3 linked regions of the Homo sapiens genome follow. The protein of the gene in region 3 interacts with the protein of the main gene of each other region in a pairwise test. Each region holds a gene or a part of one and is shown on either strand. Other genes may lie near its edges.

Region 1 (3,500 bases), on a different chromosome or scaffold from region 3:
TGTACAAAAAGCCAGACATATTTAATGTGTACAACTCAGTGAGTTTAGAGATAAGCATACACTTGTGAAATCACCACAATCAATGCTGTAAAACTATCCATCACCTCCAAAAGTTTCCCCCTGCTTTATTTATCTATCCATTCATTCATTCATTCATTCATTTTTTTTGTAGTAAGAACACAACATAAGTTCTGTCTTCTTAGCAAATGTTTATACAATACAGTATTGTTAACTAGAAGTACTATTACCATACAGATGTCTGGGACTTACTTATCTTGCATAACTGAACTTCATACAGTGAATCACTTTATGTGGCCCAGAAGTTTTTCCTGAAAAGGAAACTTTTGTTTTGGCTGCATTGTAAAATTACAGGTTACAGTATATAGTTTTCTTTTTGCCACTCCAGGATTGTAATTTTTAAAGCTCAATTTGGAGTTGGAGGAGATGATGTCTCTTCCTCTCTAACATTCTGTGAGAGCACTTTTGTCTGGCCGGGGTGATGAGGGAAGGGGTCAAGTTTAATATGAACCTTAAAGAATCAGCAGCCTGTGACCCACAATTTTGTCTAGTTAAGATTTGATAATTGTATCAATAAAATCTACAATAAGGAATAATTATACTAATACTTATTTTTTAATGGAGGGCAAAAATAATTTAAATTATTAAACATTAAGGAAGAGGTAGAGGAACTAAGAAAAATCACTGGATTTCACAGCCAACAGGAAGAGCCAACAAAGTTGGAATCTATTTGCTAAAGTTTCAGTAGCAATATACTTGAGTGATTTAATTTCTGTGTGTGAAGTTCTGGGAAATTACATATGGCACAATAAGGTGCATATATTATGCATGTATATGTACATATTTTTAAGCAAGGATCTTTACATAAAACCAAGTACACTGTACTTAAGGGAATTTTTTTTCAGGGGTATTTTTTTCTTTTCAGTTCTCTTTTAGTCATTGTCTTTAGAACCTTACTGCCTAGGGGAGCATGTATGCCTTACTCTGGGGTTTTCTTTGCTTCTGTTTTGATTTTTCCCTGTTTTCTGTTTCTCTCCATCTATTCTTACCTACTGTTTTTTTACACACTTATATTTTTCAGGCCTATGTTGTAAAAAGAGTTTTAAGTACTCTAAGTTTTTTTGGAGTAATAAGAGTTTGAATACGAGCAGACTTTCAAACAAGGTAAAACTGATGGTGACTGAATAGTTACTAAAGGAAATGTATAGATATTGTGTTTATGTAGGAAATTTATCTTGAAATTTTAATGGTGTGCAGAAATATGCCATATATTATATATTGCCATTTCATTTGTTACTTTGACACTTGTGGTTCATATCATTAAAAATTATTCTCAGCCTGACAGAGAGAAGTTTAATTTCTTAAACATCCTTTCTGCTTTACCAGATCAAACTCAGCCTTTTAGTAGAGTAATATCAATAATAGTAATGCTGTAATTGTGGACATCTGCATTTCAGTCAAGTATGTTAAATAAAGCATAAATATATTAGTAAAATTTAAAGTAATCAAAATAACTAAAAACAATATTTGAAGATTCTAATACATAATCTAGCTAAGATTTTGTCATGGTATGTATTAAATTCTTTCTCTGGCATAATTGTATAGATGGGGATTTGTTTTTGTTTTTTATTTCTCTAATACATTTAAGATTTTAAAACATACCAAAATTTATATTTAGGGAGAAATAAGGTGACTTATAATTTTTATTTTTAAATTGTTATCTGTCAAAAAGCCAAATATTGGAAAAAATTAATAACTATCTCTATTTTTATAGATCCACTCAGCAGGGGATTTCACATTTTCTTAACCAGGGCCCTCAGTAAGAAGTACATTTTATATTGTGACTTAGTGCACACATAGGAATAAATACATCTAGCCGAAATCAACATTTCATAAGACAGTAAACTTGCTATGTTGCTTGTATTACTTTTTCTATTTATTTTTTTCTATTTTATTTCGTTGTTTTTAAGTGCTTTTCATGACCCACCAAATTGATTTTATCACACATAGCTTGGAAACTGCTATCCTAGGACATTTTTACTCTAAGAAAACTAAATGTAACTATCTGTTTAATATTTCATCTTCTCTCTCCTGCTTTTCTGGTTCCCAGCAATGCTGTGTAAGATTACGAAAATGAAGTACTTCCCAATGTGAGTTAGTAAATACTACCTGTAATTCAGAGAAAGATAGCATTTAGTCACTGAACAAAAAGATATAGCATATCTTTTGAGAAAGCATTTATCTCTGTTGTGCATATTAGAAATATGAGAATGTATTTCTCATGTAATGTTGTTCATTCTAGTAATTCAAGATAACTTTTGCCTTGTGAAAACTTAGAACAGAGAAAGGGAGGTTGTGGTAGTATTCAGACTTGAATACATGAGTGCGGGATTATCTATTTCAAGAACAGTTGCTGAGGAGGTTCAGAAAACTCAAAATAGAGGTCTGCTGCATCTATCCAGGATAACACTGATTCACCTCTCCCTGTAAGACAGTAAAACTATAAATATCTTAAAATCACTTAGTAAAGTTACCCAAGAGAAACATTGAAAAACCTTTATTTAAAACATTTAGGAGTGTTCTCATGCTTTCCTGACCCTTAGAAATTAATAATTCAAATGTGGAAATACTATATTAATAATTCAATGCATATTAGTATTTTCTCTACTAAGTATCTTTACAGCTCTCTCTCTGTAAATGAAATCTTAGAGTATTTTAAGAGACAGGGTCTTGTTCTGTTGCCCAGGCTGGAGTGCAGCGGCGCCATCAGAGCTTACTGCAGCCTCTAACTCCTGGGCTCAAGCAACCCTTCTGCCTCAGCCATCTGAATAGCTAGGACTACAGAGCAGGCACCACCGCATCCAAGTAATTCTTTAAAAATTTTTTCTAGAGATGGGATCTTGTTATTTTGCCCAGGCTGGTCTCAAACTCCTGGCCTCAAGTGTTCCGACTACCTCAACTGCCCAAAGCACTGGGATTACAGGCCTGAGCCACTGCCCCTGGTCCTAAATTAATTCATCTTTAGGTTTCCAATGAACATTATGAATACTGTATGTATTATAATTCTCGAATGGAGTATTTTATTGTATATACTTATCTTCTCATCCATGAAGACAGCGAATGTTAATCTCATTAAAGCTGAGATCCAGCACTTATTAGTTATGTAATTAGGAGCAAGTTGACATTCCTTGCATTTTAATTTCCTCATTTGTAATATGAGTATGATGTAGTAACTCGTGAGATAACGAACGTAAAGTGTTTCTTTACATAGTGAACCTAAAATATTAATAATAAAGTTTCACCAAGAATCACAGAAATAGGAATGAAACCCAGCCTTTTATCTGTATACTGCCACGTGACTTCTTAGGAATTAGGCTCAATTGTCTTACTATATTGAGATGAATTATATACCTAGTATAGTATAACATTTCTGTTTTTCCCATTGCTTTCTCCTCTGTGTTTTAAGTGCTCTAACACTACGT
Region 2 (3,500 bases), on a different chromosome or scaffold from region 3:
TCTTCAGTCAAATATATGTCGCAAATATTTTTTCTCATCAGTGACTTTGCCTTTTCATTTTTTAAGGGTGCCTTTTGAAGAGCAGCTGTTTTTAATTTTGATGAAGTCCAATTTGTCAGTTATTTGGTGGTTAGTGATTTGGGGGTTTCAGCTAAGAAATCTTTGCCTTGTCTAGAGTTGTAAAGATTTTTCCTTTAGATCCAACAGGCCTGCCCACTCCTCTGTATTTGGAGCCATTCTGAGACATCTTCATTATTTACTCCTTCCTTTTTCCTAATGTCTCCTAGTTATATCTGTAGCCAGGGGCCCAGATTCTGTTATGATCTAACAGTCCTCTAATGCTTCTCTCCCATTATTTCTCTGCACTAAAGCTCATCACCAACAAAATTGTTGTACTGTTGGTGCCAATGAAAACCATCACCTCCTGAGTTGTTTTCATACCAGTTCTATCTAAAAATGTTCTTTTTCTTCCTTTAAGTTTTAGAGAAAAAAACAGCCTTAGGGTCTGAGCTCATTCATTCATTTATTTGTTCCTTTTCAACAGAAAATGTGTCTGCCCACCATGGACCCAGACACTGGCAGTTGGGCGTGCACAGCATAGCTGGGCCCTGTCCTGTGTATTTCCAGTCTGGTGTAGAAGGTGGAACATGCCATTATGGGTGTGATCTGTGTGGCAGTTGTGAGGTGGACGATCTGCCACATGCCTTTCCCTCTGAATTCTGAATCAATTGAGAAATTAATATTAGAGGCCAATGGAGTCAAAGGCTCAGACTTACTGCTGGTAAAGCTAGACTAGAGAATGTGGTTTTCACCCAAGGCCACACCAGTGTTCCTATGCCTCCTACATCTCATTAAACTTGCCACTAGGTAATAGGCAAAGCAGCTGCATAGATACACGCCTCCCTTCCTCGGGATGGGCAGGGGATGGTTACTGCAAGAAGCAGCCAGAAACCTAGAAGGGAGGCCACATACTTGCAGGCAGGCAGGTCCCAAAAGAGCGAGCCAAGGTCAGGCCAGGCTCCTCTCATCACACGTGCCTGAATCCCCATCTCTCCAAACAGATAAGTGAGTTAGGGTAAGGAGAAGGGAAATAGGGGAGTAGAGGCATTCTCCCCCATGACTTCTGCAGGAGAAGTTTTGATTTTATAAACTCAAGCAGCAACTGGCCAAACGGTTTCAAAAACAAAGGTTGTAAAAATTCTTTAGAAAATTTTATGTTAAAAAAGTTCTATTTGATGTTGTCTGTGAGTGCCTGGTCTATGGAGAGGCCTTCAAAAGCCAAGGCACTTCTCAAAATGCTCAAATTGTGGCCCATGGGCCAGCTGCTATTTGTCAGCAGTGAACAACAAAATTGGGAGCTCATGCGAGGATGAAAATCAGTTGCATTGCGAAGAATGCTGTTAGTTGAGCTGACATTTGTGTTTTGTAGCAAGACTTTCTCAATGAATGAAGCCAAGTGCTGATATACGTACATTCTGGCACACATCTCTTACCTAGCCATGCGCTGGCACTTTGAGTAGCACTGGCCTCATGCCTCTGGACATCTCACTCCCCGCCTCCCCTGGCAGGGCGGTGATGGGTAGTAGACAGCTGGTGTGCTGGACATGGTGAACATGACCCTTGGCCTCTTCCTGCCCAGGTGATCGCCATGATCAAAGGCCTGCAGGTGCTCATGGGCAGGATGGAGAGCGTCTTCAACCAGGCCATCAGGAACACCATCTACGCGGCATTGCAGGACTTCGCCCAGGTGACGCTGCGTGAGCCCCTGCGGCAGGCGGTACGGAAGAAGAAGAATGTCCTCATCAGGTGGGTTTTCAGATGCCTTCAGGAGCATATCAGACATAAGCATGCCAGGTACCCATCAGAGAGGATGTCCTGGCTCAGCCACTGAACACACATGGGTCCTTCCAGCAAGCTCCAGAGGGCTCTTTAGGAGATTGGGCATTTGGGATGAATTAAGCCTTCATCTCTAGAAGTCCATATCCACTGCTATCTAGCTGTGTGAACTTGGTCAGGTTGCTGACCTTCTCCAAACCTCAGTTTTCCTCATTTGTAAAATGGGGATTATAATGCTACCTGCTGCCTGTTGGGATGATGAAATGAGATGGTCCATATATAGACCTAAGCACATGCAGCATGGAGTAAGTATGCAGCACATCTAAGCTATTATGAAAACTAAGCACACACAGATTTCATAAGACCGGTGAGACTCCCCTATAACCAGAAAGGAAATACAGACCTCTTGCCTCACACAAGTTCTGTCTCACTCGATGGGCTCAGAGCTGAGTTCTCAGACATCCCTTGGACATCAGAACCATGTAGGACACTTGTTTAAACACAGATTCCTGGACTGTACCTTAAATCTGTTAAACCAGAGTTTTGGAATTGGGGCAGAAATGAGCATGCTTTACAAGCACCCCAAGAATTCAAATGTGGGTGTTCCTGGGACACCACGGGCCCTAGAAACACAAGCTTGTAGTGACGTTTTCCCATGGTGAAACCTGGTCTAAGTCTTAGTTCTTCCTTCCCCAGCGTCCTACAGGCAATTCGAAAGACCATCTGTGACTGGGAGGGAGGGCGAGAGCCCCCTAATGACCCATGCTTGAGAGGGGAGAAGGACCCCAAAGGTGGATTTGATATCAAGGTGCCCCGGCGTGCTGTGGGGCCATCCAGCACACAGGTAAGCGGCTCCAGGCACAGGCCAGCTGCGTTGACTCAGAGGCCAGCCGGGCTATGGTAGATCATCATGGCTGGCCATGGGCAGTGGGACTGGGAGCCGTCGGTCAGGAGGGGCAGGGTTGAGTGGCTGCTCCGGTCTTATTCTGCCATCTTGTTTTGATATAGGAAGGAGGACCACTGGCTTAAGATTCAGGAGACCTGGATTCTAGTCCTAGATACCTGTGTGACCTCGGGCACTTTACAGATCTCTCTGTGCCTCAGTTGTTTAAACTGGCTAATGGGGATAATACCACCACATCCACCTTGCCTGGCTATCTTCTAGTCCTATGAAGTATAGATTCCAAAGTGGAGGAGGAGGTTAAAGTGGAATCTATCTGCATGCATCTATGCTGCCCCTCTTTAATAAGTCCTGGCCCTTTCCCCTAAAAGTTCTGCCTCTGACTTGCTGTGTGATCTTGGGCAAGCACCTTGAGCTTTCTGAGCTCTGATTATCTTCTCTGTAAAATGAAAACTTTGGATGAGATTGTGTTACTAACAAAATATTCCTTAGTTCCACATCCTTCCAAAAGTGCAAGTATTGAAAGCCCTTGTCCCCTTAGAGGAAGTCTAGTATTTGGAAACACTCAGAGTTGCCAGCCAGAGCTTCTGCACAAGAGGTCGCCCGTGGCTTATCCAGAGCAGTCATAACGTTACAGAAAAAAAAGTCAATAATCTGGGCATCTTCGTTAAATCCCTGCTACCTACTTAAGGATAGGTAGTTTCTGGTAATATTTTTGATGTACTGGAAAAAGCAGATGGTTCTCATTGCAAGTTTAAGGGTC
Region 3 (3,500 bases):
TGTGAACCTATTTGGGATAACCCCCACCCCCCGAGACCTCAGTTCCCTCATAAAGATGAGCCTAGACTACCTCATAAAAATGGCCCAGAGTGTCTCCATGGCCCCCGATAGTCTCTGACTTTGCCATTTGGTTGAATCAGTTTTCATTAACTCACGGGGAATATTTGATCTGCTCATCTCATAGGGATATAGCAAAGGCAATTTGTTGAGTGTTGGGGGAATGGATAAAGGTGAGTAACAAGCACTAAGTTCCTATTTGATAAGCGTCATTACTGAGAACTTAATGCCACCTAACACCAAACTGGGAAAAGTACAAAAAAATGCACTAAAATAAATAATAGGCAAGTTGCAACATTTGAATTTCACGTATCTTCATTTTCATTTTTATATCTTATTTACTCTTTTGCTCCACAATTTGAGTCGAACATGTGATGAGAGTTCTAACCTGATATGCTTACTTCAGTCCCAAACATAGTCATCTTTGATCTTTTCTCAGATTTGGCCTAAAACTCATAGTTTCATTGATTTTTTTTAAACTAGGCATTCTTCTATGTTCTAGGTCTTCAAGAAACCTCCATATCCAAGAAAAAATAGAAAGCAACCATGTTCTACTATGGTGCCAAAAATAGTTGAACATCGACATCAAAAAGATTCTTTCTATCTGCTTATTCACATATTGTGGTTTGAATTAAAAGTGATGAAATTATCCTAAATACAGTTGGCCCTCTGTATCCATGGGTTCCAGATCCACAAATTCAACCAACTGTGGATGGAAAAGACTTGAAAAAGATGACAGAAAATAACAATATGACAATAAAACATAATACAAATAAAAACAATACAGTATAACAACGATTAAATAGCATTTACATTATATTAGGGATTATACAAGAGAAGGTATGTAGGTTATATGCAAATACTGCACCATTTTATATAAGGGACTTGAGAAGCATGGATTTTGGTAGCCACAGGGGTCCTGGAACCAATCCCTCACAGACACAGAGGGACAACTTTACAGTAGATGAACACAAAGATGAAAGGGAATGTCTTACCTAGGTCTGTGGGGAGAAGTGGAACTCCATTTTTGACAGGTGATGCCATTTTTTGTTTTGGACATCGTCCCTCTGTAGTTCTTTCCATTCCCAGTCTTGCACTCTGAGAGATACACTGAAGGGAAGTCCACACAGTGGTCAAAGTCTTTCACAAGACACCACATGAAGGTCTGCACAGCATAGTCACGTTGAGAAAAAGATCTCATGCACCAGACCCCCTGTTTCTGCTTTCTAAAAGATCATCTTTTGCATCTGCAAAAAGGCTGCAGTAAACTGAGCCATTCTTTGATTCATGTATTCAAATGCTACTTATGAGCTCTCTGTGTATCGAGCCCCACCAGGATGCTGGGGACACACGGGGCACAGTGCAGCCAGAGGCTTGGCCGTCATGGAGCTTACATTCTAGTGGAATCAGGCAGGGGGGTTACAGGAAATATTCAAGGAAACAATATAAAATGAGATCACTTAATGATGATACATATTACATACATGATGAGACAGAGTGAGAGAATGGGGAAAGGGCTTTTTAGATGGGGGAATGGCAGGCTTTTCAGAGGCTGAAAGAGATCCAACCCACTTCTATTTCTTCAGGCTCCCAGTGATATGAAAAAGTGCCAAACAGGGCTATAAAATTGTGGTCTACTGTAAATGGTTTGCAGTAAAAGTTCTCAACCAGCTTCCACTCAACCAACTCACCAGTTAGACAACGGGCCCTCTCCTGTGTTTAAAACAGTCCGGTGCCCACCTGGGTCCACATGCAGCTGGCAGGTGTTTGCTAGTGTGCCCACCCATGTCTGTTCCCCCCACGTGAGTTATGTGCTTACAACGAGTCATTTCTTTGCATTTTCCAACTTTCTTACATTTATATTTAATTAAAGATGATCTAAACTGAGAAATGAATGTGAAAAGAAACAAAGCTCTTTTTTGTTTGGTTTTTAACTAAATTAAATGTTTTTAACAAGTTGAAACATGAATCATTTAAAAAATTGCTATCAAATCCACAGAGGGCAATCCACTCATATAGTTGACTATAAAGCTTGAGGAGGAATTCATAAAAATCTAAAGGTTTTACACATTCAGATTGATTAATAAATGTCGAGATATGGTCCACTTCAAAAATAAGGAAAGTAATTATTGTAGATGTTGCACTGGAGCATAGTTTATGCAGGAAATACACCAGAGACCTTCTACTGGTGACCCCATATTCGAAGAAGAAAAGCCTCTGCTCTACGTCAAAAGGTGTCAAGTACACTTGTGTTTTCAATGAAAATATAAAATGTTTAAGGTATATTTACACCATCATTTAAGGTTACCCACTTTAGCCATTTTTTAATTAATTGATCAATCACATGGGGAAAGTGCTCCTAACATACCTACAGCAAACTAATGCTTTTAACCCAATACTGCGTATTATGATTGCAAGTACATCTTCATTGGGACATAGTATTACAGTAGACATAAGACACTCATCAAAAGTGTAAACTCAAGGTACTTTGTGAAAGGGAGGTCTAGGGGTCAAGGAAGATTTGCAAAGGACATGATGATTGAGCTGACACCTAGGAGATAAGAAGGAGCTGGCACAGCAGGACAAAGGTGAAGAGGGTCCCAGGCAGGAGGGTGTGTGCTTGGGGTGGTGAAGGAACAGAAGTAAGGCCAGTGTAGAAAAGTTTAGCAAGCCAAGCAAACAGCAGCTGGGGGTTACTTAAATAATGCTGGGCCCTAGCACATTTGGGAAGTCTTTGGGTCTTATTTTAAGGGCACTAGGAAGGGCTTTAAACAGGGAAGTTACATTTCTTAGAGATCATGTGTACAGCTACAAGTAGCCCCAACCAGTGGTGATAGGGTCTTGGACTTGGTGAAGGCAGTGTGGCTGGTGGCAAGTGGCAGAAGTAAATGTGATCTAACACTGACTGTTCCTGGCAAAACCCTGGCAGGTAAGTTAGTAGCAGGTCAATATCCCACAGCAAAGAAACAAGGACCAAAAAATGACTGACTTTTGACTTTTCACTTCTTTTTTTTTTGTATGTACCCATCAGAGTTTATATAACCTTTTGCTCCCTTCTGTCACTTTGAAAACAAGCAAACTAAGCCTTCAAACTTCAGACTTCAAACTCAACCTACAGTCATTCCCATGTTCCTTCTGGTTAACAATTTACAAATGACATATTTAAATGTTAGCATTTTGTAGAGAGAATCAGGAGAATCAGGGTTTTTTTTTTTTAAAATCTGGTACAATTAGGTGATCCTATTTAGTTTACCGTTTGCTTGCTACTTGTAAGAACTAATAACTTCACCAGATAAAGTTTAGATTTAATCTGCACTTTAATCTCAAGAATTCGAGATAAATAGTGGTAAGGAAGGAAGTACAATGCGTACAGCTAATGAAACCCAGGAAGATGAGTCAATGCATAGAAATAATTCCAACCCAAATAAATACTATTTAAAATG

Evidence for each region. Proteins that work in one complex are often made in the same cells at the same time.
Region 1: the proteins of PLG (region 3) and RAP2A interact in a two-hybrid assay, tested with the Homo sapiens proteins (one study listed by BioGRID and IntAct).
Region 2: the proteins of PLG (region 3) and CYFIP2 interact in a two-hybrid assay, tested with the Homo sapiens proteins (one large-scale study listed by BioGRID and IntAct).

What each region holds. Positions count from the first base shown.
Region 1 is NC_000013.11:97,440,669-97,444,168, forward strand, and holds part of RAP2A (ras-related protein Rap-2a), read left to right. Parts: intron 1-3,500. UniProt on the Homo sapiens protein: Small GTP-binding protein which cycles between a GDP-bound inactive and a GTP-bound active form. In its active form interacts with and regulates several effectors including MAP4K4, MINK1 and TNIK.
Region 2 is NC_000005.10:157,318,123-157,321,622, forward strand, and holds part of CYFIP2 (cytoplasmic FMR1-interacting protein 2), read left to right. Parts: intron 1-1,639; coding exon 1,640-1,806; intron 1,807-2,532; coding exon 2,533-2,680; intron 2,681-3,500. UniProt on the Homo sapiens protein: Involved in T-cell adhesion and p53/TP53-dependent induction of apoptosis. Does not bind RNA. As component of the WAVE1 complex, required for BDNF-NTRK2 endocytic trafficking and signaling from early endosomes.
Region 3 is NC_000006.12:160,708,744-160,712,243, reverse strand, and holds part of PLG (plasminogen isoform 1 precursor), read right to left. Parts: intron 1,168-3,500; coding exon 1,053-1,167; coding exon of another isoform or gene 1,049-1,052; exon of another isoform or gene 372-1,048; intron 1-371. UniProt on the Homo sapiens protein: Plasmin dissolves the fibrin of blood clots and acts as a proteolytic factor in a variety of other processes including embryonic development, tissue remodeling, tumor invasion, and inflammation. In ovulation, weakens the walls of the Graafian follicle.